Homo sapiens: one gene and its partner. The protein of the gene in region 2 interacts with the protein of the main gene of each other region in a pairwise test. Each region holds a gene or a part of one and is shown on either strand. Other genes may lie near its edges.

Region 1 (3,500 bases), on a different chromosome or scaffold from region 2:
GTGCTTATTACACTGCAAAAATTGATATTTTTATAACATCTGACTCCACCATAAGGCCACAGGCTCCCCAAGAGCAAGGTTTGTGTCTTACTCATATTTGTATTCACAGCACACTTTCTATCCCCAGTACTTCTTCAGGCTTCTAGAACTTTATCTATAAAAAGTGACAGTTGGCTCATCTCCCAAATCCAGTCCAAATCAACTTGCCTGTGATTCTTTCAAGCCCAATATATAAAATAAAGATACAGGGTGGCCCTCTTCAACCACATGAATTTAAGGGCCTCATTAACATGTAGGCATATGAGGAACAACTTCTTTAATCCTTTCTTAGAAGAGGGCAGAACTGCATAGTTGTCTTATTGTCATCTTTTTTTTTTTTTTTTTTTTTTTTGAGAAAGGGTCTTGCTCTGTTGCCTAGGCTGGAGTGCAGTGGTGCAATCACAGCTCACTGCAGCCTCGACCTCCTAGGCTCAAGTGATCCTCTCACCTCAGCCTCCCAAGTAGCTGGGACTACAGGTGTGTGCCACCATGCCCAGCTATTCATTTTTATTTTTATTTTTTGTAGAGATGGGGTCTCACTATGTTGCCATGTTGATCACTCCTGGGCTGAAGTAATCCTTCTGCCTCAGCCTCCCACAGTGCTGGGATTACAGGCATGAGATACCACATCCAGCCTGTCATCCTTCTTCTTTAACATTTACTGAGTATCTTTTCTCAGTGATGTTAAAGTGTCTTTTTGCTAGTAGTTTGCGGGCTTTCCCAGAGCCTCATAAAGTCAGTGGATAAGAGAATCCACCAGTGATTCGTATGGCATCACCCGCTTGGTGAGTGGCAGGACCACTCTCCTGACACCCTCATCAGTGTCCTCTACAAGTATCATTTTTTCCAGGATGGCTCCCAGGATTGAAGGCAGGGAATCCAAGGTATTAGATTTTTGTAGCTATTAAGGCCAAGTAAGCGCCAAATCAGTAAAAACAAAATTAATGAAGAGGCCCTTCTCTTAAAAGGGTCTGCATTATGAAGGTGACCTCTGGTAGAAAATATAATTAAAACATATATAGACCACTGAACTGTATGCTTAAAAGTGGTTAAAATGATAAATTTTATGTATGTTTTAGCAGAATAAAAAAAATGGAAAAAACACAGAACTTTCTCATATATATTTTAGTCTATTATAAATTAATGAGTAATAAGAAAAACTCTAAGCTCAATTTAAACCATTTTAGCCTTAAGAGATAAATCATAATAGAAATAGAAGATTTGCTGTATCTCTTTCCAGTCAGATCTATGTTGATAGATAGGAGAGTCATGAAAGTATTTATATGTATTTGTTTCTTCAACCATCTGTCCATCCATTCATTCCTCCATCCTGTGTTGTAGTAAATGTTTTGTGCCAAGCACTGTGGTGGTAAAGCATCCCTGCCCCTTAGGAACTTACTATCATCTAGCTCCATCTGTGAAATCTTCTTTAATACCCTACTAATCTGTTAAGTAGAATTGACCAGTTCCTCCCTTGTGATTCCACAATCCTTTGTTCATTTAGTTAGCCATCATTCAAATGTTTCTACCACGTGCTGTGTGCTGTGTTAGGAAGGTACTGGGGGTGTAAGGTCAAATAAAAGACAGCCTTTGCTCTCAAAGAACTCAGTAGTAGAGTAGTAAACCAATGATTGCAGTACATTATTATGACGGTGAGGCAATGGAGTTTAAGTAGTGGTGCAGAGAAGAGAGTAGACAAACAATGTAGCCACATGCTGAAGGTGAGAGTGGTTAGAAAGCCCGTGGCTACAGTATTGAAAACATATTGACAGGCATGAGACTAACAGCAGGAGACGCTCTCTTCCTTTTTAATAGAACATCTTGTATTCTGCTATAGTTAATTAACTGTGTGTGTCCTTTCTATAGACTGTGAGCTGTTTGAAATCAGCGTTGATTTTATTCATCTTTATATCCTCCCTGTGTTTTATTCATCTTTATATACTCCATGTGCCTAGCACAGTACCTTGCATATATTAATGTCCTATAGATGCCGAAAGGCGCAAATGAATTGCAGAGAATGGTGAAACCAAGTTGAGTGACAAAGGCAGTAGAATATGAATATCCTCAATAATCAACTGTCAGCTAGAAACAGGCAGCCCCCTATGAGAAGGTAACATATCTTGGCATGCTCATACAATCGCTGTTCTAGAAAATATTTCAGTGACTTTAACCCTCGAAGCTGTTCTCAAGATGTGGGAACACACTGATTTCTAATACTGAACAGTTCCTAAATCGCAATCACAAGTGTTTTAGGGGCTCAGTGCAGCTTTAAAACAATAGCCCATTATTCTAAGACACATCCTGGCAGAGGGGAACCGTGTCCCTAGGTTTGAGGCAGAGAAGAGAAATAGCCTTTGTCCCAGCAAAAACCGTAACATCTGTACAGTGGCCTTTAGCATACACAGGCTTTCATGTGTATCATCGAAGAGCAGCTGCAACTGCAGATCAAAGGAGAGCCTTTGTGTGCTGCTGATTCATGGCAGGGACTACGGGTCACTCAGCAGTCTCTTTAGCTAAGCTAGTATGAGCAGAGGGTGACAGCAATGGATTCATCCTCTTTGGATACAGATGCACATTTTAGTTAGTCTTTGGTGGCAACAGCAGCATGGGAGCATGGAATGAGTCCTCAACTGGAAATAGAAGGCCTGGATGCCATGTCCTAGCTTTGTGAATAACCAGTTAGTTAAGGGACAGTTTCCATTAATACGGGGAGGTGTACACTTGCCTACCTCACTGGATTGTTGTAAAGATTAAATGAGACCATCAGTAAATATTTGAGCACCTCCTATTTGCCAAGTGCTCTATTTGCTCTAAATGGACCCTGACGTCTCCCTCATGAAGCTTTCAGTTTAGTGGGAAAGATGGCTATTAAACAAATTATTACAAATAAATGATTCAGGCATGTCAGGTGCCATGAGGGAGAATGACAGGATGTATCGCAAGAGAGACTGTGTGGGGTGGGGGGGTGGGGAACCTAGCCTAATCTGAAGGTTCTGGAAAGCCTTCCTGAGGAAGCAATCTTATGTCCCTGGACATGAATACACCTGTGACCTGTGAAATTCGTGCAATTAGAAGGAAAGATTATTGTTTTTGTTGATGTTCTTATTTCTCAAGGCCTTGTGTTTTGTTCTACACTTAGCAGCCACCCTGGAGAATAATTCGTTTTCAGTAGTTGTCTACTCTGTGCAGGGAAATTGACAAGTATTGTCTTCTTCTTTGTTATTAGAATTATTAGTTATTAGGACTTAGAACTGGTAGATAACTGCAGAAAAAGTGAACCTTCAGCAGGTTGTGTGTTATTAACCACTTTTTATAAAGAAATAATCAAAGCCCAAAGAGATTAAGTGACTTGGCCAAGGTCATAGAACTTAAGAGACCTGAAGGAAAATTATATTGTTGTCTGCCATGGCATGATTCCTGTTTTCTTTAACAAAGATAATACCTTAATACATCCATTTGAA
Region 2 (4,105 bases):
GGGTTTCACGATGCTGCCCAGGCTGATCTCGAACTCCTGAGCTCAGGGAACCCACCTGCCTCAGCCTCCCAACGTGCTGGGATTACAGGCATGAGCCACTGCTGTAATGGCTCCTTTGTATATTAGCTAGAGGCTGAATTCAGTACATGAGAGGGCAGTAACTTATTGCGAAAGTTAAATTGGACCTGTTTGAAAGATATGTGTAAACTGTAGAGTCATACAGGAATGTGAGATATGGGATTATTCATGAGACAGCAATAGGAAATCAAAGTTACCACATAAATGCGGGTGTGGGATGGGAAATAATTTCCTAGATCACCTCCCCAAGATAGGATACTGCGGTAGGTTGCGAAATGAAACTGTGAAGGGGGAGCACATCTCTTTTAAGAACCTTTCTATGGCAGTCTACAAGCTCTAGGTCAATTTTGAAGACCATCCAAGCGTTCTAATGTGCCAGGGTTAAACCCCAAACTCTAAGGAATGCCAATGCCAGGAGGAAAGAATGGATGAGTCGGCAGAACACCTCTCTGGACCCACAATGCCGTAGGAGTCAGACACCCTTCGCCTCCACAACTTCCCAACAGCCTTTGGTGTGAGAAGTGGGTTAATTCATTTCACTGCTGGCTTGTTAGCTGGCGGACGCTTCGGGAGTTCCCACCCCAGGGAGCAGTGCTGACTCTACAGGGGCATCCGGCGGCAGTCGCTGCCAAAAATCTCACCAAGGGGTGAATGGGGGGTCCTCAGGACCTGCGGTGCCGAGCTGGGTAATAAAATACTGCACCTGAATTCTTCTTTAAGGACCAGGAGGAGGTTCGAACCCCAAGAAAGGCTGCAAGCTGAACCAGAAGCTCGAACCCAAAGTTCGCTTCACAGCCAGCCACACTGGCACTCGCTGAATCTGCGCGCCTCGCGAGTTCTGACGATCGTCATGTGATAACTGCCACGCACCTGATGGCAGGGGCCATTGGGTGCTTTGCTTGGTTCCCATTAAAGTCGACTGCGACCCGAACGCAACAAACCTAAGAGTTGGAAGGCGCAAGTTCCTCTGCCAGCGAGCTCACCCTCGGCAACCAGACTGCTGAAAGTGCGCTCCACGCCGGAAGTGCACTAATCCGCAGCACGTGGGGTTGCCAGGGCGCTCTTCACGTGACTGGGCGGAGCCTCGGGAATCTGGTAGCCAATGGTAGCCCGAGAGGGCGGTGCCTGTGACGCTCCGGGGCCTATCCCGGAAATAGGGCTGAGTGGGGGCGGGTAAGGGCGGGGAGGCTGGGGTGTGGAAAGTGTGGCGGCCCCGCCCCGTCTCTTGGAACTGCCGCGGCCGCCACCGCCGCTGCCGGCGCCGCTGCTGTAGGGGACCAGCGCGGGTGCGCAGACGAAAGGCGCTCTTTGCCAGCTGAAAGGTGAAGACCTGGGGAAAAGCTGGTGGGGAAAAGCTGGTGGGGATGGGGCCAGAGTGAGGCAGGGCCGGGGAAGGCGCCCAGAACTGAGCGCTGACCGAGAGAAAGAAGGAGAATGGATGGGGGAACAGAGGCGAGCGCGGGACCCGCCGGGGCTCAGGCCCTAGTGGGGCCGGGCCGGGCCGAGCTGAGCCCTGGATGCCGGCAGAACAGGGGGCGCCTGTGCGGCCGCGGCGGCGACGTTGAAGGGTGGAGGGCGGGGTGCGCGCCAGCTAGCAGAGGGCCGGGTGCTGCTGGCCAGGTTCTGTTACCCCGCATCCTTCGCGGGGACCTGCGGCCTGGGCTGGGTCCCCCGCAGTAGGGTTCGGGGCGGCGGCCGAGGGCTGGGCGGCGGGGGAAGGTCGCCGGCTTCTGCGGTGGGGCGATGGGGGCCGCAACCTGCTGTTTCCAGCACGGAGGAGCGCCCAGGGCGGGTGTCCCCACCCTCAGCGAGCTCCTCTGCGACTTCTCATCCCACCTCCCCAAGCAGTAGCTGGAAAAGTTTGTAGAGGCCAGAGTTAGAAAGTGGCCACTAGTCTAGGGTGGGTGTTCCTTACATGCAGAAATAACGGGCCCATGATGCTTGGCACATAACTTGTCCGAAATGAGACGTTTCCCTGCCTACATACCCGTTGTTAAAAAGCAAACACAAACTTTTTGTGTAGTTCCCACGGAAAAACTACCATCTCCCCTGCCCACCATGGCAGACGAAATTGATTTCACTACTGGAGATGCCGGGGCTTCCAGCACTTACCCTATGCAGTGCTCGGCCTTGCGCAAAAACGGCTTCGTGGTGCTCAAAGGACGACCATGCAAAATAGTGGAGATGTCAACTTCCAAAACTGGAAAGCATGGTCATGCCAAGGTAAGTACCCTTGCAGATCAGGCTTTGGCTTCGGCGTTGGGACTTTGATCATTTGTATTCCGTTACAGATCATGAGATTTCTATACTTAAAATTTTGTAATAAGCACTATTTTTTCCTTCCCACAATTACTGGGTAATCAGTTATTACGTTGAATACTTAAAGGTAGCATTCCCTTCTTGGGCCCTTACAATGTTCATTAACTGGGAACTGAAACTTTCCTGAATCCTAGTGACCTATAAGATCTATTTAGTTTACAGATGAGAAAACCTGTTCTAGCAATTCTAAGAAATCTACACTTTATTTTTCTTGTGTAATCTCATAATTGAATCACTGGTCTATATTGGGTCTTGACATGTCGTGATACTGTTTAGTTGTTTACTGCCTCTTAATTGTAAGACCACTACATTTTTTTTTAAGTAAAATTAGATGACCTTGGAAGGAGGAGAAAAAGAATCTGTTGTAATCAGCATTGGTATTGTGCTCTTGTGTGTGTAATGAGTGATATACTTGGCAGAGATTAAACAGGTTTCCTGTTCTCCTCTGTTAGGTTCACCTTGTTGGAATTGATATTTTCACGGGCAAAAAATATGAAGATATTTGTCCTTCTACTCACAACATGGATGTTCCAAATATTAAGAGAAATGATTATCAAGTAAGCACTGATTTTCTTTAGAATGTTGCTTGTTTCTTCAAGGTGCAAATACTTTGTACTATCAGTAATAATTTGACAAAACCCAAGAGTAGTTTTGTAGGTTTTTCTAACCAATTATTAGGCACCAGCTATCTTAGAAATTGGAGAAATAGTGATGTTTAACACATGTACTTTTCTAGGATTATTGCTAGTTTGCTATTTTTTTCACATTCTTGCATTTTTTAAAAAGTCAAATACTTATTAGTGTTCTCAGGCCAAGTGACTGCATATTGCAATTAAGTCCAATGTTTAGTAAAAGTACTATTCTCTCTGTTGTAAAATATTTCTTGTTCTAATTTAAAACATCCCTCCTGGATGTTTTGTTTCTTTTCACTGATCAGACCTGAGACATTCAAGAAACTACTGAAATTCATGTTCCTACCAAGTTTTTGCATTAATGAATGTTAGTCAGAACTTGACATTCTTAAGTAGAGAAATAAGTTGAAAGCCATAAATATAAAGGATAAAGTACCTGGTCACTGAGTATGGTGAAGAAAACACAAAAACTATATAATTGGTTAAATTATACTTAGTGACCATGCTATGACCTTTTGCTAAATTATGTATGTAAATTTCAAGTTTTAGTTCCAGTTATACATTTGGGTAGGTCATATTTAATGATAGCATTTTGTTGTTTGAAGTATTGATGATAACAAAATAATTGACCTTATAGGATGTGGAAGCTCAGATTACTTATAACTAAAGCTTTTCTTGAAAGTCTTCAATTTCTGTATCAAGCATACCATATATCAAACTCATTTCTGCTCATTTTACATAGTGAAAAATACAAAGTTGACACTGGTATTTGTTTTATCCGACTTAAACTGATTTTTTTCTGTACCCTTTGTTGTATTGTATAAATTTCTTTTAATGTTGCTATCAACTGCACTTACGCAATGATTTCCTTTTGCTGTTTGTCCACATGCAAACATACTTTTTTGTGGTTTTAATCTAGTAAACACTTTTATATTTTCACTTTCCTACTTGTCATAAATGTTTTCTAGGTTGCTTTGAAGTCTTTGTAGAAATTTGAATTGTCTTGCAAGTGGGTTTTTTTAACCAGGTAGATCTGGGTTTGGATCTAGTTCTGTCACTTTCTAGTTGGATGATTT

The links. Proteins that work in one complex are often made in the same cells at the same time.
Region 1: the proteins of EIF5A2 (region 2) and RAB30 interact in a two-hybrid assay, tested with the Homo sapiens proteins (one large-scale study listed by BioGRID and IntAct).

Annotation. Positions count from the first base shown.
Region 1 is NC_000011.10:82,988,398-82,991,897, reverse strand, and holds part of RAB30 (ras-related protein Rab-30), read left to right. Parts: intron 1-3,500. UniProt on the Homo sapiens protein: The small GTPases Rab are key regulators of intracellular membrane trafficking, from the formation of transport vesicles to their fusion with membranes.
Region 2 is NC_000003.12:170,905,838-170,909,942, reverse strand, and holds the start of EIF5A2 (eukaryotic translation initiation factor 5A-2), read left to right. Parts: upstream 1-1,305; 5' UTR 1,306-1,400; intron 1,401-2,101; 5' UTR 2,102-2,136; coding exon 2,137-2,301; intron 2,302-2,849; coding exon 2,850-2,954; intron 2,955-4,105. UniProt on the Homo sapiens protein: Translation factor that promotes translation elongation and termination, particularly upon ribosome stalling at specific amino acid sequence contexts.